Linked DNA regions of Homo sapiens: region 1 is linked to region 2. The links come from fine-mapping of genetic effects on gene expression. A gene starts in region 2. The other region holds a variant in brackets. All regions are shown on one strand. Distances are from middle to middle.

What was found. PIP is the estimated chance that this variant, and not a neighbour inherited with it, causes the effect.
Region 1: its variant is fine-mapped to the expression of GPSM1 in tibial nerve (GTEx, PIP above 0.99).

What each region holds. Positions count from the first base shown.
Region 1 is chr9:136,347,141-136,358,165 of GRCh38, forward strand. It overlaps GPSM1 (G protein signaling modulator 1), which reads left to right. Exons shown (of 14, transcript NM_001145638.3): 10 at 1,557-1,627; 11 at 2,447-2,623; 12 at 8,550-8,706; 13 at 9,202-9,410; 14 at 10,874-11,025. Among named protein-coding and RNA genes, the nearest start is that of DNLZ, 11 kb to the right of the region's middle. RefSeq lists an enhancer at 5,577-5,871. The variant A/AGTGGCCGG (reference allele first, on the strand shown) is at 4,814.
Region 2 is chr9:136,322,810-136,333,834 of GRCh38, forward strand. GPSM1 (G protein signaling modulator 1) reads left to right here and starts at 4,730. Exons shown (of 14, transcript NM_001145638.3): 1 at 4,730-4,954. The coding sequence starts at 4,887. DKFZP434A062 (a long non-coding RNA gene) reads right to left here and starts at 4,514. Exons shown (of 1, transcript NR_026964.3): 1 at 1-4,514. RefSeq lists enhancers at 1,107-1,733, 1,734-2,362, 4,892-5,421, 5,422-5,950, 10,008-10,640 and a silencer at 3,564-3,858.

The DNA.
Region 1 (11,025 bases), 24 kb after region 2:
GGGGGATGAGTGCGGAGGGGAACTGCCCGGCCCGGCCCATCCATGCCGGCGCAGTCTGATGAGGAGGGCGCTGAGCTCCGAGGCGTAGTAATGGGGCCAAGTCTGATGGTCTGGAGGTGCCAGGACTGGATTCTCAGAGTGCCCACTGATGCCAGGGCTGGTTCTGGCCCCGCCCTCGGACTCACACTGGGTGTGCGCAGGGCTCCTGGGCACAGCCCGTGTCCAGTGTGTCCACGGGTGGAGGGACGCTTGGTTCCCAGGAAGACTGGGTAAGGGTGGGCATAGGGGGGTGGGAGCTGTGGGTGAGCAGGGAGGAGGATGAGGGTCCTCCCAGCTGCGAGAGTCTCCCTGGAGATGTGCCAGGCGTAGGGACAGCAGAGACAGGGTCCTCAGTGTCAGCCTCGTTCCGCCGTCGTCCCCTCTGCCTAGAACGTTCTGCTGCCCTTTCCACAGTGGCTGTGCCCCTGTCCGTCCCGCCGCCTCCTCAGGGAAGCGCCCGCAGACCCTGGCTCTCAGCCACAGCATCGGGCCCTTCCCACAGGGCTTCCTGCCTGGTTGAGGACATTCCCCACTTCCCGGATTCCATCCCATTTTTTCCGTTCGCCAACTGATTTCTGATCTGCCAGGTCTGTCGTGCCCTGGATACAGGCTCCTGAGAGTGCTCAGGGAGCGGCTGGGCTGAGGTAGGGCCCACTCTCCCAAACTCCCAAATCCTTTCGGGCCCCGCAGGGCTGAGCGACACCCGTCTCTGCCAGGGCTGTGTTGGGACAGGGCTGAGTGACACCCGTCTCTGCCAGGGCCGTGTTGGGACTGAGGCTTGAAGGTGGGCCTGGCTGTGGGGCTTCCCAGGGGCCCGGGACAGGCACTGGTGGCTCCGCTGAGTCTGCAGCTGGCCAGTGTTGGGTCAGGCAGCTGTGCCCCACCACCCCACTGCGGCTAGAGGGGATGGGGGTCCCTTGGGTGGAGACACGGCCAGTAGGGTGAGCCCCGGGCCAGGAGGGATGGACAGGAGCCCGGGGAAGGTCCCACGGCAGAGCTGGTCTGGGGGATTCATCTGAGGCCTTTGCGTCCCCGACCCTGGCCTGGGCTGCCCGCAGTGAGCTGGGAGTGGACCCACAGGCCCGCCCCACCTGCCTCCGGGGCACAGCATGATGCACCCTCAGGAGGGGGGATTGGGTGGCCTCACAGAGGTGACCAGGGGCCACAGGAAGGGTGATCCAGGCAGAGGGAACAGCAGGACTGACGGGGGAGGCCCTGTGTGCGGCAGGGGAGAGGCCTGTCCAGAGCCGGGCCCTTCCAGCACAGGGAGCCAAAGCCAGACCCCACCTGGCCCCAGCCAGGACGCGCTCTGTCTCGACACCTGTCCCCTTTGACTCTGACAGTACAGTCGGGGAGACGCAGAGGACACTCAGACATGGCGCTCGCCTCCACAAGGGGGGCTGGCTGTCAGAAAGCCATGGCCGGGCTGGTCCTTGGCCCCCCAGAGACTCTGGCCTGGCCCACCCAATGCGAGGTGCCAGGGTGGTGCTGGGCTGACCGGGTCCCTCTGTCTTCAGGGGCCAGACCCAAGAGGACGCAGAGGCTGAGCGCGGAGACCTGGGACCTGCTGAGACTCCCCCTGGAGCGGGTGAGCCAGGGACACGGGACCGATGTCAGCACAGCCGCTGCCAGAGCATGGGCAGCGGGGTTAATGAGGCAGAGCCACCGCCACCCACCTCAGCCCCTGTCTGCTGGGAGATAAATGTGCCCTCCTCGGCCTGATGCCCTGCATGGCCCATCTGCCACCTGCTCACCCATGTCCCTCAGCGTCTGGCCAGCTGTGCCCCAGGCGAGGCATGGTCCTCACACATTTCAGGCCCCCATACTCCACCCAGCTGCTATGCCACCACACCCTCGGGAGCCCACAGACAGGGGCACCCACTCCTGCCTGCTCCCTGCCCTCTCGGACTCTGACCCAAAGTGGGCACAGCTGCTGCAGGTGCAGACACTGGCTGGGGTTCAGCAGACCCACACAGACAGATTCGGGGGCTGCCTGGCGTAGGGCCCTGGGCTGGCCCTGTGCCTGTCGGCAGTGGGTGCTGTGTGGCCTGGGCCAGCAGCCTGATCTCTCTGAGCCTCTGGTTCCTCTGGTGTGGCCTGTGTTCAGTTGTGGATGGCCGTCAGGGTTCTGCTGTGGGGACGAGACCCAAGGACGCCCACAGTCACTGTCATTGCTGGTATAAGCCGGCTGACATTTGCGGGGGCCACTGGCCCTCAAACACCCCACCCTGCCTCTCCCGGCCCCAGCCAAGGGCCCACAGCCCCAGTCCTCTCCTCCTCTCTGGGTACTGGGCACCTACGGCGTGCATCCATGAAATGGAGGCGGCCTGGCCTTCCCTTCAGGGTCCTGGGATGGGGACATTGGTTCACAATTGCCCAGGCCACGCACAGCCTTACCCCTCCCCAGGAGCAGAATGGAGACAGCCACCATTCAGGGGACTGGCGGGGGCCCAGCAGGGACTCGCTACCCCTCCCCGTGAGGAGCAGGAAGTACCAGGAAGGCCCGGACGCTGAGAGGAGGCCCCGGGAGGGCAGCCACTCCCCGCTGGACAGCGCCGACGTCCGGGTGCACGTGCCACGCACGGTAGGCGTCTTTGACGGCAGATCCAGGCCGAGAGGGAGGAGAGCTTGGCAACTGCGCCCCAACTCCACTGCCAGCCAACGGGGCCAGGTCAGGCCCGGGCACTCCGGGGAGGCAGGGGTCCCTCCCCGGTGCACCTGGTGCAGTGCTGTCCTGGGACCCCGGTGGGGGCTCTGGGCAGGGCTCAGTGTTTAGCATTGTGGTCGCACCTGGCCTCAGAGGCCCCGGCCACCGAGGAGCCTCCTGGGGACTCTAGGCTGGGCTCTTCTGCATGGAACGCCCCGCCTCTCTTTGGGCCTCAGTTTCCATCTTGTTCACCAGTTGGGGGCTGGCTCTTCCCAGCCTTCAGGTGGCCTCTCTCTCTGACTCCAGCCCCCACCCTCCTTTGTTGGGACCCTCCAGACCCATCCGCTAGTCACAGGAGCGTGTCCCTGAAAGGAACTGGCTGCCTTCACTGTGAGAGCCGGGCTGCACAGATCCCCTGATGGGGTGCCCCTTCCTGAGGTGGCTCTTGGAGGCTCTGGCCAGTGAGGTCAAGCCTGTGTATCCTACCAGGGCCCTGGAGGGGTGGACGAGGCCAACACAGTCCCTGGGGGAATCCTGGGATCTCTGACACCTGGCGGGGGTCCCTGAGCAGAGGGGCCTGAGGGGCACCCAAGGGGTGGGTGGGAAGCCCCTAAGCCACACCCATGGTCAGGCCCTGGTGTGGAAGCACCTGCAGCTCCAGCTGGGCCAAGGTACTGGGGCCTCTCCTTGTGGGTGCAGGGGCCGGGGCAGGACCGATGGTGAGTGGGGTCATGGAGGGGATGCAGCTGGGTGGCCTGTGCATGGCTGCAGAGCCCCTGGTGAGGGGACAGCAAGGGGCTAGGTCCACTCAGGGTTCCTCCTGGTCAGGGGCTGGGAGGCCCCACCCTGCCCTACCCCACCTGGGCTCAAGGTCACGAGTGGAGCAGAGGGTCACAGCCCAGCAAGCAGCAGCAGCGCAGCCTGGGCGCCACCCGGGTCCTCAGGGCTAGCCAGGAGCCCCCCGCGTTGCTGTGGCACACAGAGGTGGCGGGAGGGGTGGGGCAGTTGCAGTGACTGCCAAGTGTATGGGTGGACGGACGGGGGACAGACAGACTGGTGGTCAGACTCGGGGTTGGTGGGGGGACAGGTGACAGGCCGGGCCTGTGCCTGGCAGGTGTCAGCTGTGCCAGGGCCACCCCAGCCACGGGAGAGCTGGTTGGTGTTCAGGGGCACCGATGGGCCGAGTCCGGGTTCGGAGGTCAGCCTGGAGCTCCCCCGAGCAGGACGGCTGGGTCCAAACCACTAGAAATAGTCTGAAATTGTTCTTCCGTGGGCACCAACCTGCAGAGGGGTGTGGGTGCTGGGCTGGGATTCGCAGCCCCCCGAGGCTGCCCAAGCCCATCCTTCCCACCAGCAGGGCACAGCCTACCTTCCCCTCATTCAGCCCCAGCACTGCCCAACCATCTGGGCTAGGTCCATCCGTCCACTGATGGGAGAGGTGTGGAGGGAAGGGCACCCAGGGAGCACCTGGTCAGGCCTTCCCGGGGGTCCCGGTGATCCCCCAGCCTCCCTGGGCCTGGAGGGAGGAGCAGGACTGGGACCCAGACACCTGCCCTGTCCACAGCTGGCCCTGCCCTGTCCACAGCTGGGTCTGCCCTGTCCACAGCTGGCTCTGCCCATCACATCTGGGCCGCCAAGGAAGGAGTGGGAGGCTGGCAGCATGTGTGGGACAGACCAGTCAGCCGGCCTCAGGGGCTGATGGCTTTCTAGAAAGCACAGCCTCTGAGGGCTTCCAGGCTTCACGTCACCCCAACAAACTGCCCTGGGTCTGGGCCAGCAGGGCAAGGGGACACAGTTCCAAGTGTCCAGCTGCCTGGCCCAGCACTCTGGAGGCCTTGGCCAGGGCCCCAGGGAGCCCCCACCTGCTGCGGGCCCTGCTCCCCTGGCCCCTGCAACCACCGCGGGGCAGGACGCCTGGGACAGCCAAGATCCTGGCCCCAGACAAACGGGGTTCCCAGGGTCTGTGAGGACGTGGCAGGGCCTCTTGGCTTTCTGCTGACCTGAACCCCACTGGCCTTACCGAGGTCAGAACCTTGGGTACCTCCGAGTAAGGACCGTCTGCACCCTGGTGGCAGCCTGTATGGGGACTGCAGCGAGGGTGGGTGGGGGATACATCCCTGGGGCGTC[A/AGTGGCCGG]GTGGCCGGGTGGGCCCCCTTCCCCCTCTGCTGGGGTCCTCAGGGAAGGGCTTTCAGCTCTCAGTTGGGGTCCTCATCTGCAAAGTGCAGCTGATACCAATACTGCGCCGTTGCTGTTGGTGACACCAATACTGCGCCGTTGCTGTTGGTGACACCAATGCTGCGCCGTTGCTGTTGGTGACACCAATGCTGCGCCGTTGCTGTTGGTGACACCAATGCTGCGCCGTTGCTGTTGGTGACACCGATGCTGCGCCGTTGCTGTTGGTGACACCGATGCTGCGCCGTTGCTGTTGGTGACACCGATGCTGCGCCGTTGCTGTTGGTGACACCGATGCTGCGCCGTTGCTGTTGGTGACACCGATGCTGCGCCGTTGCTGTTGGTGACCAACCAGCCCCTGCCCCTCCCCACCCTGTGCCCAGACAGTGCAGGGGCCTTGCAGCCAGCACATTCGGGGCTTTGGGATCTGAGGCGGTGTGGCTGGGTGTGGTCTGGGGGTCCAGAGAACTCATTCTGGGGTGGAGGGTAGGGGACAGGGCAGGGTTGGCCTCAGAGGCTGGAGACAGTGTAGGTCCAACCAGGAATGAGACAGAGAGGCAGCAACCAGAGGCTTGAGTTGAGCTGGCCGGGAGGCCCTTGAGCCAGGGCACTGGGGAGCCACCGAGGGCTGTGGGACAGGAAGGGCCGTCCCGGACAGAGGAGTCCAGATGAGGACAGCAACCCGCCCAGGTCCTCTGCGCCTGCCTCCGTAGTCAGGCTGAATAAAGAGGTGGCTTTCCCCACCTGGCCCAGCTCTGGAGGGAGGCCCAGGGGCCCAGGTGTCAGCGGGAAAAGGGCTCTTCGGCAGGCTGTCTGCCCACACAGCCCTCCAGTGTGCCCGCCCACAGGCACGGGGAGGGGGAGGTTCACTGCTGCACTTGCTGGGGGAGTGTTTACGGAGTGCGCCTGTGTGTGAGTGCGAGCCCACGTGCGTGTGTGTGAGCCTGTGTGTGTGCACGCACTCAAGTGAGCAGGGGCGGGCGCTAGGAGGGCCGAGCCCTTGCCCAGGGTCCTATTTAAGCCTCAGGCATCCCAGCATTGAGGCAGCACTTGGCACTTTGGGCAGGGCGGTGGTGGCCCTGGGCACCTTGTGTCCTGCCTGCGCTCTGTGTGGCCAAGCACCCAGCGTGGCTCCCTGCTGCTGTGGAGACAGCCTGTGATCCGCGTGAGTCTGGGGTCCCTGGGGTCCTAACAGGTGGAGGCTGAGGGAGCACACGGGCCTCTGTGAAGCCGGGTGGGGTGGTCTTGGGCCGGGTGCATTCCCCTCCTCCGCAGGAGAAACTGGGCTTGTGCCAAAGCAAGAGAGACTAGAGTCAGACTGCAGGAGGGACTCTGAGGCCTCCGGGAAGGAGGGAGCCAGGGCTTGGGGCAAGGGAGAGGTTAGAGCAGGGAGGCGGAACCCCGAGTCCCACTGGATATGTTCTACTGGGACATAAATGCAGGGGAAGGTGGCCTTGGGGCCCAGGGTCCTGCTTCTGAGGGGCTCCAGGAGCCCCAAACTATCCAGAGCCTTTCCCCGTACCAGGCACTGAGCCACGGTTTTGCACCTGCAGTCGTGGGCCCCTGCCCCCATGTGAGGGAGGCATCAGCCCCTCAACAGCTGGCCCCAGCCTCAGGGAAGGGGAGGGCTGCCCGACATAGGACCCTGAGAGGGGCTCTGCCATGGGGCCTGGGACATGGCCCCTGACGGGTCCTGCCTTTCCCAGGAGGGACCTTGCTCAGTCCACCTGGGCCCCGGGTCACCTGGGGGAGTCCAGATTGGGCCAGAGGCAGAGGCCCCCCGCGGCTGTGCCCTAGGTCATCATAGCCCAGGAGCCAGTTCCTTTTAGACCAGGAGGCCACATCCTCCTGGGGAGGTACCTGTGTGGCCCCAACTGGCACTCAGGCTGGCAACCCCAGTGCCACCCTCTGCCTGGACCTGCAGCTCCCAGAGCCCTGGCCCAAGTGGATGTGGCCCTCCCCACAGACTGGGCCAATTCTCCCCTCCCTCCTGGCTGGGGAATCCGGGGGAGTGGGGGTGTTGCCTTAGGCCTGAGCCAGGCTGCAGGAGGAGAGCCCTGCGGGGAGAAGGGGGTGCTAGAACTCTCCCTCCTCAGGTCTGCCTCAGGGACAGGAGGTACCTCAGGCTTCCGTGACAGCTGGGGACTGACTCCAGGGGCCAGAGCCAGGTGGGGTCTCTCCTAAAACAGGGCTGTCCACAGGGCCCTCGGCTCAGCTCAAGGGTCTGAATCCCAGCTCTTTTTTGCTCCAGCATGACCTTGGGTAGGTCACACATGTCTCTAGGCCCCACTCTCCTGTGCCCTGGGCCGAGTCCAGCAGAAAACTGGAAGCAGGACGGGAGCCCTAGTCCTGGGCTGTGGGGGTCAGGTGTCGGGAATTCCAGTTGTCTGTCAGACAGCTGTCCGTCTCCTGGGCTGTGGGGGTCAGGTATTGGGAATTCCAGGCAGCATCGGGGACCCGGGAGGTGCCATCTCCACCAACATTGCGTCTCTTGTTAACTCGTTCAGCTGTGAGCCCAGCATTTGCAGACCTGGAAGAGGCCACCAGCCGTGAGATGGACAGGCTGGGGCCGGGCAGGGGCTGCCAGCGCCGGTCGGGAGGTGGACGGGGCTTGGAACCATCACAAACACCCTTCAGCCCTGGGGCCCGGACCAGGCCCTGTGAGGCTGGGTCACGGGGTGGACCTGCTTCAGCTGGGCCCCTTGGGGGGCCACAGGAGACCACGCCCTCCAGCCTCCCTTGTTTGGGTGTGTGGACTGAGGCCCAGGGCGGGGTTCATTCCTTCGAGTTCATTCACACAGCAGACACCGGTGAGGGCTGTGTAGGGCATGGACACAGGGAGCTCATGGCAGGGCTGACACAGGGTGTGGTGGGCACAGGGACAGGAGGCACGGGAGGCTTCCCGGGATGTCTGGGAAGTGTTCCAGGCCAAGGCTGGGGAGGCTGGCCCAGGGCAGGTGACGGACAGAGGCCTGGACTGGGGTAGCACCCATGAGAGGGGAGAAGTCCGGGGCAGTCGGCGGGTGCCGAGGGTGAGTGACACGTCCTGGGGGAGGGGTAGCCGGGTGCCGAGGGTGGATGACACATCCTGGGAGAGGGGTAGCCGGGTGCCGAGGGTGGTGACACGTCCTGGGGTAGGGGTAGCCGGGTGCTGAGGGTGGGTGACACGTCCTGGGGGAGGGGTAGCCGGGTGCCGAGGGTGGGTGACACGTCCTGGGGGAGGGGTAGCCGGGTGCCGAGGGTGGGTGACACGTCCTGGGGGAGGGGTAGCCGGGTGCCGAGGGTGGGTGACACGTCCTGGGGGAGGGGTAGCCGGGTGCCGAGGGTGGGTGACACGTCCTGGGGGAGGGGTAGCCGGGTGCCGAGGGTGGGTGACACGTCCTGGGGGAGGGGTAGCCGGGTGCCGAGGGTGGGTGACACGTCCTGGGGGAGGGGTAGCCGGGTGCCGAGGGTGGGTGACACGTCCTGGGGGAGGGGTAGCCGGGTGCCGAGGGTGGGTGACACGTCCTGGGGGAGGGGTAGCCGGGTGCCGAGGGTGGGTGACACGTTCTGGGGGAGGGGTAGCCGACAGGGGGCAGGTTAGAGTCCCGATCTTGGCCAGGGTCTCAGAAGTGTGTGTGGCCTGGGCAAGCAGCCCCCGGTCTCGTCTGGGGGTCTGCGGGGCTAGCTTTGGCTGCGGTGACCCCACTCCCTCCCCAGAGCATCCCGAGGGCCCCGTCTTCGGACGAGGAGTGCTTCTTTGACCTGTTGACCAAGTTCCAGAGCAGCCGCATGGACGACCAGCGTTGTCCCCTGGACGATGGCCAGGCCGGGGCTGCCGAGGCCACGGCCGCCCCCACCCTGGAGGACAGGATCGGTGAGTGCCCCCCTCAGCCGGGCCCTCCCTTGGGCTTGTCTGCAGGGGCCAGGACCAGGGCTCCCGTCCTGCTTCCAGTGAGGAGTTTTCGGGGGCAGACCAGCAGGCCAGCTGCAGAGCACCCTGTCACTGAGGGCGCCCTCCGCAGCCCCCACAGAGCAGCATCCCGGGAAGCGTGTCATCAGCCCGCCCTCCGGGACACACTCAGGCTGCAGGGGCAGTCTCAGGGAGGGGGCAGGGCGTGGGGGACTGGCGTTCTCCTCCTGTCTCCTCCTGTCACCCCCTGGAAGCCCCTGAGGTGGGCGTGGGAGCCACAGCAGGGGGAGCAGCTGAGAGCTGCCTAGGCCGGTCAGCGGAGACTCCCCCAGGAGCCATGGCCCCAGCAGCACAGTGGGCTGGGCTGGGCTCAGAGGTCAGAGCTCACTGTGGCCGCAGCCCGAGCCTCGGGCTTGACCCCGCACTGGGTCCCAGGTCTCACCCTCTGGCCCCCCGCAGCCCAGCCCTCGATGACGGCCTCGCCCCAGACCGAGGAATTCTTCGACCTCATCGCCAGCTCCCAGAGCCGCCGGCTGGACGACCAGCGGGCCAGCGTGGGCAGCCTGCCGGGGCTGCGAATCACCCACAGCAATGCAGGGCACCTCCGAGGCCACGGCGAGCCCCAGGAGCCGGGGGACGACTTCTTCAACATGCTCATCAAGTACCAGGTGGGCTGCGGCCCTGGGCGGGCGTGGCTCGCGGCCCCTTTGCCATCCACGTGTGTGGAGGCAACTTGTGTCCTGAGGGGTGAGGTGGGCGCTGGTTCTGCCATCTCCGGTCATGTTTGAGGGACTCCTGGGGGACTCAGCCAGTGTCACCACATGACCAGGGGTGTCTGAGCCTGAAGCCCTACTCCTGGGAACCCCGGGCTGCTGGAGACACCAGAGACCCCCCCTGGCAACCCCAGGACACTCCCAGGCTGTGCCACCCCCCTGCCATGCAGGAACTCGGGGTGGGGGCTGGGGGGTCACAGGTCCTGGAGCTCATGGCCTCAGGGATTCCCCACCAGCCCTCCACACCCGGCAGGGAAAACACGGGCCAGATAGCACCCCCAGAGTGGGGAGGGCAGGGGGATCCAGGGCTGCCAGCTGGCTGGTGGGACAAAAACAGGGACCATCCAGGGACCACACAGTGGACGGCATGGGCGGAGGGTCCAGCCCCAGAGGGCAGAGCCAGGGCCGGGGCTCCAGCCTGGCAGCCACGCCAGGAATGACCTCCTCATCTGTGTGGGGGTGAGCCAGGTAGGGTGGCCGGAGTGGAGACTGCTGAGCCAACTGCTATCCCAACTAGGACCTCAAACTCTGGGGGTCTCGCCATCCCTGTGGGGTGCAGCCATTGCTGGGAAGGGGTTCAGGGTCCGTAGACTTGGGAACAGGCTGGGGGTGGAGGCCGCTTGGCCCACCACGAACCAAGCCAGCACGTTTCCAGGTCTGCCGTCCTCCCCACAGCAGAGAGGAAACCTCGGCCCGGGGCCAGGCGTCCGACCAGCCACCTCCAAACCAGCCCCACCCAAGAGGCCCAGAGTCCCCCATCCACACGCATGCCTGCGCCAGCTCCCGTCCCTCCTGCTCCAGGCGCTTCAGAGAAGCCCAGACAACCCCTTGGCCCCCTGGCCTGCACACTGGAGCAGGCGAGGCCCACGGGGTCAGCCACCTGACACAAGGGGAAGCCCTGGGGGGCGCCACACTTCGGGCTCTGGAAGCTGAGACCTCAGGCCTGCCAGGGTCAGTCCCAGGCTGTGCTGGTTTCCAGGGCTGGGCAGAGGGACGGCCACGCATGCCCGTCCCTGGGGATCAGCAGATGTGGGGAGCAGGCATCCAACGCCGCCCTAGCCACTGTCTCCTGGGCCTGGCACACCCATGCCCAGTGGGAATCGCTGGACCTGCTTTTCCTGGGCGGGCCTGCCCTGGGCTCCTGCGGGTTGGTGGCGGGGCCACCAGAAGACTGCGCTCAGGGCCCGGGCTCCCAGCACAAGACCCCAGAGCGAGGCAGGCCCCAGAACCAATTTCCTGGGTGGACAGGGGGAAGCCCGTGAACAGTGCACGCTGGCCTCTGGAACCACCGCTGCTGACCAGCCCCGGACCACTGGGGCTGGGGGGGTGAGGCCGCCAACTGCACTGTGTCCACCCAGTCCTCCAGGATCGATGACCAGCGCTGCCCGCCACCTGACGTACTGCCCCGGGGCCCTACCATGCCGGACGAGGACTTCTTCAGCCTCATTCAGAGGGTGCAGGCTAAGCGCATGGACGAGCAGCGGGTGGACCTCGCCGGGGGCCCGGAGCA
Region 2 (11,025 bases):
ACCTCAACATAAGACCATCCTAGATTAGGGGTGGCCTGCAGCCCCTAGAGCTGACCTGGATGAGCATGGACCCTCCTCTGTGACCCCCAGATTCTGAGCTCTGGTCCCCCGAGCTGTGAGGAAACACATGTTGTTTTAGGCCACCCAGTGCAAGGTCATTGGTACAGCAGCCCCGCGAGACTCCTTCGAGGCCCACAGCTCAGCACAGCCACGTTTACCGAGTGCCCTCCGTATGCCAGCCACGGTTCTAACTGCTCAGCCTCCCGCAACCCTCGGAGGTGGAGATGGGCGGGGAACGCGGAATGCGCCTGGGCCTCACAGCTGGGGAGTGGATCTGGGATGTGTACCCCTGCACTGTGCGGCTTCTCTCCCCCAGAGGGTTTCAGACTTACACCCGGCCATCGCACTCCGCAGACTGGAAACTCGCAACTCAAACCCCTAAAAGCGAAAGCTGGGGTGCATTTTCTGTTTGCCTTGGAGGGACTCCCTAGGATTTACTGGGGACGGCCGATTTGCCCTCCTCATCCTGTTTGGTTTGAGCTGATGTTAAAAGACTCGCCTCCCACCGCAGACCCGGGGGGAGACCTGGGGAGCTGCCCTCGGAAGCTGAGCAGCACAGACTCTCCCAGGCATGTGCACCTGTCTGTACATGTGTGCATGTGTGTGTGTGTGCGTGTGTGTGTTTCCCTGGCACTCACAGCATCACCATCTGCCAGGCTGGGTGGGGCGCAGATGAGGAAGACCAAGGAAGTTCCACACGACCTGCCTCGCCATGATGAGTGAGCGTGAGCTGCCTCCTGTGTGCCCTGCCTGCCCAGAGATCCCGGGGACATCACCTGGCTGACAAAGTCTGCAGCTGCCAGCAGTCGGCCAGGAATGCCGCATGGCCAGGTGTCTCATACTGGCGTGGGTGTCGTGCGGCCTCACGCGGCCCTTGAGCTATTTCCAGGTGTGGGTATCATCTCCCAGCGAGGTGCTCAGCCCTGGGGTGGGACAGACCGTTTCCTTCTGGCTCCCTGCAGAGCTTGTGGGCCCCTCCACCCACCCTGCAGTCCCCAAACTCCAGGGACTTGGAGGTCCCCAAGGAAAGGACATGGCAGTGGGAGATGATGTCATGAGGGGACTTGGGCAATGGGGAGGAACACATGGCCAAGCTGGGAGGAAGAATAAGTTCATTCTCAGAGCAACGAGATTATGTGAACATGGTAAACCCAAGTGTTCTTTTTAAGTGAGATTACTGGGAAACAAAGCTGAAACTGTTCCTTCTGTGTGTGTGTGTGTGTGTGTGTGTGTGTGTGTGTGTGTGTGTGTGTTTGGGTGTCCTTCACTGTCTCCCTCCCCACTCCCGGCCTGCTTCTTCCTTCCCCAGCTTGGAATCCACGGTTGAGGCTGGTCAGGAACCATCAGGACCCAGCATGGGTAATGGCAGCTGCTGGTGCCCTAGCCCCCACTGGGTCCTACAGTAGCTGCTTGTTGGGGAAGGGGCCTGAAAAGGTGGGAGCAGAAGGAAGCCAGGGTCTTGGGGCCGTGGGCTGCCACAGCCACCACAGAAACACTCCAACTTCTCCCAGCCCTAGCAAACCAGTGGAGGTGTGTGCTGGTGCTTTGTTCCTGGGGTGGCTTGGGGCCGCCTGGCTGCCTCTCCCGAGCCTGGCCCTCACCCAGGAGGCCACACCAGCCTCGAGTGCCCACCTCCGTCCAGAGCCCCAGCTCCCCACTCCTGGGGGCTGAGCCAAGAACCCTGTGGCTGTCCCACCGTCGCCTCCCAGAGGCTTGTCCGGCGCAACAGGACAAGGAAGGACTAAGGCTTAGAGTCGGCCCGATCAGGTGACGCCTGAGCTGTCACCGCTGTCACCACTTACACACAGGGTGTGTGGACAAAGTGGTGCGTGCCAGGGAGGGCTAAGTGACCGAGGGCAGGCACGTGGCAGGCTCCTGAAGGTGGAGGTGGCGCTGACAATGGCCACCAGTGAGCAGGGCCCTGTGTGTGCTGGGGCTGACTCCAACCCCTTGGCGCTGCCACGCAGGGGCTTGGGAGGGCCCCTCCCCAGGCACATGGGAGGTGGCCCCTCCCTGACCACGGAGCCATCGTGTCTGCAGAGGCCCACCCTGCGCCCTGTGCTGCTGCCTGGGGCCAGAAGAATAAGTCGATGTGAAATGGCTTTTTCTTTCCTCACCCCCCTTTGGGAGTCAGGCCCGTTAGGAATGGAAGGGGCTGTGCTCCTGGTCCCCTGGGGGAGTGAGCTTCCCGGACTCTTGGGGGGATCTGGTAAGGTGGATGGTGGGAGGCTCGAGGGTGTCCAGAGCCTGATGGGAGGGGGTGGCAGTGGAGGGTCATCCCTCCAGGGTCTCCCTTCTGGATGTGGACACCACATGTCAGGCCTGTCACCTGGCCTTGTCACACTCCATCTCTGGGTCCCCTTCATAGGTTTTCTCGACAGGAGAATCAGGTCCCTGGATAGGAGGAGACGCCCCTCTGTGCAGTGTGGTGGGGATGTACCCCCAATCCAGCCAGGACCCACTGCAGGGGCCCAGCAGGGGCAGGCACGAGTGTGAGAGCAACATGACCCCAGCAGCTCTCGCTGTGTGCCAGGCACATGGACACGCACCACACAAACCCCACCGTGTGCCAGGCACACGGACAAGCACCGCACAAACCCCACTGTGAGCCACTAGGCACATGGACAAGCACTGCACAAACCCCACTGTGTGCCAGGCACATGGACAAGCACCGCAGAAACCCCACGCCTCAGTGACCCTCCACACCTTGCGGGACGGGCAGCCCTCAGGTGACAGAACCGAGGCTCAGAGAGGGAAAGCAACTTGTGCCAGGTCACACAGCCTCATAGCCCAGCTCGGCCTAACAAAGCCAGAGCCCTCGGGGGTGCAGGTTTCCCCACAAGTTCTGATATAATGTTGGGGCTCTCCCGGCCCAGGGACACAAGCTCCCAGCTCTCTGCATCAAGGAAGGAGACCAGGAGAAGCTCCCCCAGCAATGACAGCTACGAGGCTGCAAATCTCTCCCTCCCTCCACCATTTGTGCAATGTCTTTTGTCCCCACTTCTCTTCACCAGCCTCCCACCACTAACCCAGGGGACCCACAAGGGGCTCACAGTGTTGGTGTGGACCCTCTGTGGGCCTCCTGATGGCAGCAGCGCCTGGGGAAAGAGGGCTGAGCTGAGGCCTGGCACAGGCAGGGCCCCCAGCAGCCCCTGCCCTTACAATGGGATGCTGGCTCAGGTGCCCGAAGCCCAAAGGAGGTGGCCCGGAAGGTTGGAGCTTCAATCGAAGGCCTGTTCTCTGCCCGCAGCCAGGCCCAGGGCTGTGGCAAAGGAGGGTGGTGCCCCAGCCAACACCACTGTCCCTGCCGGCCAGCAGCCACGGCCCCGGCTGGAAGGGAGCAAGGCTCTGCCTGGCTTCTGTGGTCTTTGGGGGAGGGCACGTGGGCCCAGCAGGCAGCTTGCGCTGCGCTCAGGGCACAGATGGTTCTCATTCCCGTTGCCTCCCTTACACAGGAAAAACAAACCAGCCCGGGGCCAACAGACCCCTTTTTAACCTCGTGTTTATTTTCCTTCCCATGCTTGAAAACGCTGACTGTCCTGTGGGCGGCAGCTGCTGAGGGTCTTGCCAGGACGGCACTTTCCTGACCTCAGGGCAGCTCTCCCAGGGAGGGGCTGGGGTGCACGGAGGGGCCCCGAAGGAATGCAGCCCATTTCCTGCTCCTGGACTTCTCCGAGTCATACCCGGGGTCGCAGCTGCCTTTCAAGGGCCTGGAGTCTCCTGACACCACCGGAAGGCCCAGGATGCTGTCGGGGGCAGGACAGAACCCGGGGAGGCCGGCTGTGGGCCTCGCTGGCTGCGGAGAACCCCCCAAGCCATCGGGAGCTGAGGGTGGGTGGAGGGGAAGCCACGTCACACCACATAGGCCCACAGGGCTCCAAGAATTCAGAGGAGGAGGAGGAGGCGGTAGGGGCTGGGGTCCCGGGACCCCGGGTGGGCACAGCCTACTGTGCCACCTGCATCCTCCCTAAGCCTGCACAGTGCCCAGGAGGAAGGAAGGGGCAGGCTGCATCCCCATTCCGGGGGAGCTTGGGAGGGGAATGTGGCCACCCAGGGTCTCAGAGGTGGGGGGCTTACCAACCGTCCCACAGGCCAAGCAGAGCCTGTATTTGTCATCGGTGCCCCAGGTTTCTCTAAAGCAGGCAGACAGCATCCCCACGGCCTGCGCCCCATGGCCCAAGGCAGAAGTTTGGAGAAGGGGGCAAAGCCACGTTGGGGCTGCACAGAAGAGGAGGGTAGGACCCCCGAGGCGTAGGGCGCCCACCAAGAAAGGCAAGGAGGCCTCAGCAGCCCCTCCCCACGTGGGTGAGGCTGCGGGGCTCACCAGGCGGCCTGTGGATGAAAGGAGCCCAGAGGCCAGTGTGGCTGCACTGTGACCCAGGGACCCCCGCGGGCCCTCAGAAGTCCCCAGGGGACCAGCAGCAAGGCCAGGCCCAGGCCCTCTCCCCTGCATTCCCTGGGGTGGGGTGGGCTGGGGCCCACACCCCCTCCCCCCTCCCCCCTCCCCGGGGACTGCCCGCCTCACGGCGCCCCTCCCCCCGCGTCCGCCCCGCCCCCCGCAGAGGGAGGCACGCGGCGGTGGCCGCCCGGTCCGCGCCCCCTCCCCGCGCGGGCGGCGGTGACATCACGGCCACGGCGGCGGGAGGGGCGGCGGCGCCCCGCGCACATCACTTCCTCGGCGCCTCCCCGGGGGAGGACGGGCGAACGAGGCGCGGACGGACAGGCGGACAGCAGGGCGGACAGCAGGGAGGACAGCAGGGCGGGCAGGGGGCGGACGGCCACGGCGCGGGGGGCGCTCCCGGCTCCCGCTCCCGCGTCCCCGACCCATGGCGGGCCCGGCCCCGCCCGCGGCCGACGAGCTCCCGGGCCCGGCCGCCAGGCGCCTCTACTCCAGGTAGGACGGGCCGGGGCCGGGGCCGGGGCCGGGGCTGGGACCGGACCGGGCCGGGTCGGGACGCGGGGGAGGCTGCAGTTGGGAACAAAGGCAGCTCTCGCGGGCGCGCAGCGTGGCTGAGGACGCGCCCCTCCCTCCAGGCCGAGCCCAGCCCGGCGTGTGCCCGCGTGGGCGTCCCCTGAAGCCCTCTTTCCCCCAAGCCAAGGGGAAGGGGGTGGGGGGCCGGGGGGCTGGAGGCGGGGTGGGCAGCTTCTCCAGCCTCACTCCCCTGGCACCTGGCAGGGGCACCGTGGGGTGCTTCCCTCCCAAGCCTGGCCCTGCCATGCCCGGGGCACTCAGGGGCATCATGGCCAAAGAGACCTGGCTGCTCTGGATGGGGCTCTGCCCCTCACCAGCCCTCCACGAGCCCAGTGGGATCCAGCTGGGTTGGAAGGGAGCCAGCCAGGTGGGTGTGTACCTGCCTGAAAAGGCATCTACTCTCCGGGCACATTCCTGGGTGATCCCAGTGACTGGGCTCTGTGCCCCACGCCTTTGGGGATGACAGGGTGGCCCTGCCCCAGGTGGCATGCCTGCCTGGTGACTCCCAATGTCCCCCCAGGGGCTGCCCTGGGCCCAGCCGGGCAGGTGCCTGGAGCCCCAAGCAAGGCTGGGTGGTACCAGGCCTCAGGCAGAGCCACACGAGCGTGAGGTCCAGGCAGGGGCTTGCGAATGGGTGGCAGCCGTCAGAGGCAGGCCTGGCTCCCCAGAGCGAGGGACACTATTGTCCTCTGGACATCCCTAAAACCTGGTGACCTCCCTGATAGGGGTCCCAGCAGCTGATCCCGGGGGGCGCCTAGCCTGGCCCCCAAGGATTCTCTGGCCCCAGCCAAGCAGCAAGCCTCTGCCTGGGGCACCCGAAATGAGGTACTGGTGGCGGCACGGCGGACAGAGGCCTTGCTGCCTCCGGTCTGCTCTCTGCTTTGGTCCCAGACACAGCCCCATTGTGCCGTCCTGGATGGAGCGCTGAGCCCCTAGCCTGGCTCCTGGGCCCCACGCAGGGGAGGGGCGTGAGGGTGATTTTGCTGGCAGCTGCTGCCAGGGGCCTGCCCTAAAGGATTTTCAAGGGTTTCCTCCGCTGATCTGATCGGCTGTGCAGGGCCGCATGTGCTCCAGGGCGGCCGTGCTGTGAGGGGGATGGATAGCAGCCCTGGCTGGAGTGAGTTTGAGTGTGAGTGTGTGGAGCTGTGAGAGAGTGTGTGTGTGGAGCTGTGAGAGACGGGTGTCCAAGACCTTAGCCTTGGGTGAGGCCTGCACAGCTGACCATAGAGTTGGGCATTCTCCAGGCTACAGCTAGAAGCCTGGGGTCCCCTGGGGACACGCCAGGCAGGAGCCAGCCCCTGGCAGGGGCAGTGCTCAGGGGGACCACTCAGAGAGACCCCAGACCCAGCCTTGCATCCCCCTAAGCAGGGAGTCCAGTTGAGCTCCAGGGTGGAGTCAGGCCCAGACTTGGGGGAAGCGCGCCAAGCCCTCCAGCAGGGCCTGTGACGAGGTCCCCCCGGGAGTCTGCACCCCACCGTGTAGCCACAGCCCGGTTTGGGCAGGCGGTTCCTGGTCGGAGCTGGCTTCAGAGCATGGATGCCTAGACGTGTTCTGGGCCAGTGGAAGCTGCGGGCCAGACGGGAGGGCCCTTTGCTGTCATGCTGGGGCTGGAGAGCAAGACACGGAAAAGTCTCCTGTCTCCTGAAACCCGAGTGCTGGGGGCGGCCCACCTGCTGGCGTGGGCGGTGGGCATGTGGATGCCCTGGAGGTGGGCGGAATCCGTGTGGGCACTCCTCACGTGGCTGTACTGGGGTCCCTCAATGTGGATGGGGCTCCAGGTTGGCCCAAGGTCTCCTCTGCCCCGTCTACTGCCTTCCCACACTGACATTCCTTCCTGGAGAGAGGAGTTTCAGCTTTTAAAATGGGGAACTGTGCCTGGAAAACACACTGACAGCGAGGCCCATGAATGTGCCCATGAGCCCACTGGGTACCCTGAGGGGCCCTGGGTGCTGGGTCGGTGGGGACGGGCCCCTGGGTTCTGGGTCGGTGGGGACGGGGCCCTGGGTGCTGGGTCGGTGGGGACGGGCCCCTGGGTGCTGGGTCGGTGGGGACGGGGCCCTGGGTGCTGGGTCGGTGGGGACGGGCCCCTGGGTGCTGGGTCGGTGGGGACGGGCCCTTGGGTTCTGGGTCAGTGGGGATGGGCCCTGGGTGCTGGGTCGGTGGGGACAGGGCCCTGGGTGCTACAGTTAATGCTCAGAATTCTGGCCCACTTGCCAGGGGCTCCCTGGCCCAGAGCAGGGCTTTGGGGTGAAGAGGCCTGGCGGGGACAGGCCAGTGGCTGAGAAGGCCCCGGAAAGTGGGGAAACCCTGGGTGGTCGTCTCCTGGCCTCCCACCTGCTTTAAGGCCAGCTGAGTGCTCCCCGGGGCTGGGGCCGGGAAGGGGCAGCAGAGCCACCCACCTTGGGGTGACCCTGTTAGAGATGCCCTCCAAGCAGCAGTCACCAGCTCCCAGACAGGACGTCCTCAGGTGTGGACTGGGCCCCCCGCAACCTCTCTGGCCACATGGCCATGCTACCCCCTACCTTCACTCCATCCTTCCTCCCTCCCCTGTCCCCGTCCTGGGCACCATCCCTGGTGGGTCGCTGGGCAGCGACGGGCCCTAGGAATTCCTGGCAAGCCTGACCCCAGGTGCTTCCTACAGCTGGGTGACCTTCAGTCCCCTCTCCAGTGATTCCAGCTCCCGCTGTGCTCCCAGCCCGGTCCTGCGCCTCACTCTCTCCCCTCCCCTGGCCACTGAAGGGGAGTCGGTGTGGTTTTCCCTGGGGGTGTCTGGCTGGGGGATGGGGCAGATAGAGCCAGCTGTGAGCAGAGTCTCTTCAGCATCTGCTCAGGGGCCAGCATGTAGGTGACGGCCTTGGGGAGGGGCAGGTGCCAATTCTGTTAGCAGGGCTGGGACTGAGGGACACGGCTTTCGGGTGGCCGGAGGTAGTAGGAGTTGCAGTGCTGGCTTGGGAACTGGCCTTGGTGATGGCACCCCAGCCACCACGGAGGGTCTGAGGGTTCAGTCTGTTGACGAGGACTGGGCAAGGGAGAGGCATTCTAGGTCCTGCCCCGCCTTTGGCCAAGCTGTCCTGAAGGTGGACAAATGGTCTGGCCTGAGTAGGACCCCTGAGCCCACAAGGCCTCAAGGTAAGGAGGAGAGAGCCCAGGGCCTGAAGACCCCCACCTGTCCTTGGATTCCTGCCTCTGCTCAGACCCCGTGGCCGTCTCAGGGATAAGACCTGCCCCCCCAGTCCCCCGCCTCTGTCAGGTTCCAGCCTCCTCATGGGCCACAGGTGGCTGGAGAAGCTGGGAGCCCAGCTGAGAAGGACGCCGGGGGCTTGGGAAGTTTGAGGAAAGGAGCCAGGCTAGGGGAACGTGGTCCATGCCTCCCAAGCCCCACGACCTGGGGAGCGGCATCCCCCAGGCCCCACGTGGCCCTGACCCCGTCAGACCTGGGGCCCTGTTCGCACCTTGGCCAGTCAGGTGAGGGAGAGCACAGAGGGCCCGGCAGACGTGGGGCTGGCATGGTGAGGACTCTGAGCCCCCCCCCCCCGCTGCCCCATGCTGGCACCGTGGGCTGGTGCCAGGGAGGCTGGGGAGGGGGCCAGGTGGGGTCGGGTGGAGCAGAGGAGGCACAGGGGCCTGGAGAACCGGTAGGCGGCCAGGGGCCACCACTGCGCAGAATTCCAGCTTTGCCCAGCCCTGGGCCAGGCCTGGGGGAAGAGGTGCTGGGCTGGGGGCACTCACACACTCTGGACGCCATTCCTCTTTCCATTCACAAACGTGCCTGGCGCTCCCGAGTGAGCCCGGTCCTGGGGCAGAGCAGCCCCCGCTGGGAACTGGATAAACGTTTGCAGAGGAGTTGGCGGGTGACTGACGGGAGGGCAATGCCGCTGGTCCCAGTCCCTGGAGGAGCACGTTGGACGGGATTACCCCAGGGCTCCCCGCCCCGCTGCTGACGAGGCTGACCCAGCCTCTGAGCTGTCCTTGATCCCTTGATCCACGTCAGGGATTGGGGAGGCCCCCGAGCACCTGCTGGAGGACTGGCAGTCCCCCGCCGAGCTTTAAACCCACCATCCTGGAGGTCAGAGGGCAGGGAAGCCTAAGGCCAGCCCACCCCCCAGGACCCGTGGCCATGGTGGGGCGAGGGCTGGCTTGGGGGAGGAGGGCCTGGGGCCTGGCGATGCCATCCCCTGCTGGGGAGGGCCCGCCTCTGGCCCTGAGCTTGGCGGAGAAGGCCGTGTGCAAGGTGGTGTATGGCGCCCCCCGCCCCCGCCCGCTGCTGCTGCCCGTGGGCCTGGAGCTGTGGCTCTACGTGCAGAAGATGCGAAACCTGCAGAGGAAGAGGTGCGGCGGGCAGCGAGTGGGGTGGTCACGTGGGTGTGGGTGCCAGGGCGTGGTTGGAGGCTGTCTTGGGATGAGTGGAGGGGACACCCACCTGGTGCAGCTGCAGGTGGCTGGCTGCATTGCCTGGATCCCAGATTGGAGGTGCAGAATGACAGAGGCCCATCCGTGCACCCATCCCCGACTTTTAGGCCCAGGCCCTTCCCAGGCCAGAAGCCTCCTTCGCCTTGAGCCTCGGATGCCACGTCTCCGGCTGGAAGGGAGGCGGGAGGTGGCTCCCATCATCAGATCTGCGGAGCAGCAGCGTCTGGGCTCCACAGACACCCAGGCCTCAGGCCTGAAGCCCCTCTCCTCCGATGTTGCCTGGAAGGAGGGGGCAGTAAACCGAGTGAGACCACTTGAAAAGTGGCTGGGTGGGGCAAGTGGGCCTTAATCAGGAAGCCCCGTGCGTGGCGCTGGCTGCAGGATGGGGCTTGGCTGGTTGTCATGGCGACGGTGGGCTCCTGTGACCCACGTGGCATCCGGATGGCCATTCCCAGAGGGATGGGTGAGGTGGCTGTGAGGTGCCTGGCAGGTAGTGGGTGGGAGGGCCTGGCCCTGAGGTGAGAGGATCACTTGAGCTCAGGAGTTTGAGACCAGCCTGGGCAACATAGTGAGACCCCCATCTCTACCAAAAAAAAAAAAAAAAAAAAAAAGCTGGGCATGATGGTGCAAACCTGAAGTCCCAGATACTTGGGAGGCTGAGGTAGGAGGATGGCTTGATCCTGGGAGATGGAGGCTGTAGTGAGCCGAGATCGCACCACTGCACTCCAGCCTGGGCAACAGAGCAAGACCGTGTCTCTATAAAAATAATAATGGTAACATAAGTTTTAAAAATGAAAAATGAAAGCAACAGAAAGCAAACAGGAATGATGGGGCCGGCCTGCAAGCAGCCGAGGCTGAACCCTTCCCCCACTTCTCTGAAATCAGGTCCCTCCTGGGCTCCAGCTGTGCCTGCCACCTCCTGGGGCCCCCCAAGCTGCGCCCTTGCTGAGTCTTTTGTGGCTCTCCGGGGGCACCCTGCAGATGGGGGCCCGCCTGCTCACACTGGCCACCCCATGGCATCTGCTGGGTGTGTCCTCCCCCCGCGACCCTCCACCCAGGGCAGCGCAGCAGCCTGAGGCCCATGTGACCTGTAAGAGTAGGATGGAGGAGGACACCAGGCCCCAGAGCAGGCAGCAGGGAGGTGCGGAGCCGGGCAGCCACGGAGTGACCCCACACTCCTCCCCGGCAGCTGAGTGCCAAGGGCAGCTCCCCAAGGCCCAGGGTGGGGGTCCCTCGGTGAGCAGGGCTAGGGTGGCAGCTGACGCACAGGGTGCTTGGGGGTTGTGCAGGGCCCAGGGTGAGGGGTTTCTTCTCTAAAGTCCCTGCCCGAAGGTGGGGGACCACGGCCAAGCAGGGCGTTGGTGTTCAGAAGAGGGCCTGGCCCTTGGGGTTAGGTGGCGCTCACACGGCGGAGTTCACCTTGGGATGGGGCGCCATCCACATCTTCCCACAGCAGCGCTGGGGGTGGCGGGCAGCACCTGGGAACAGCGGGTTCTCAGGCCTGTCCTGGCTGGCAGCGGCGAGCGCTTAGCTCTGTGGGTGGGGGACCAGGAGGAGAGGGGCTGGGACTGGCTAACCCGCAG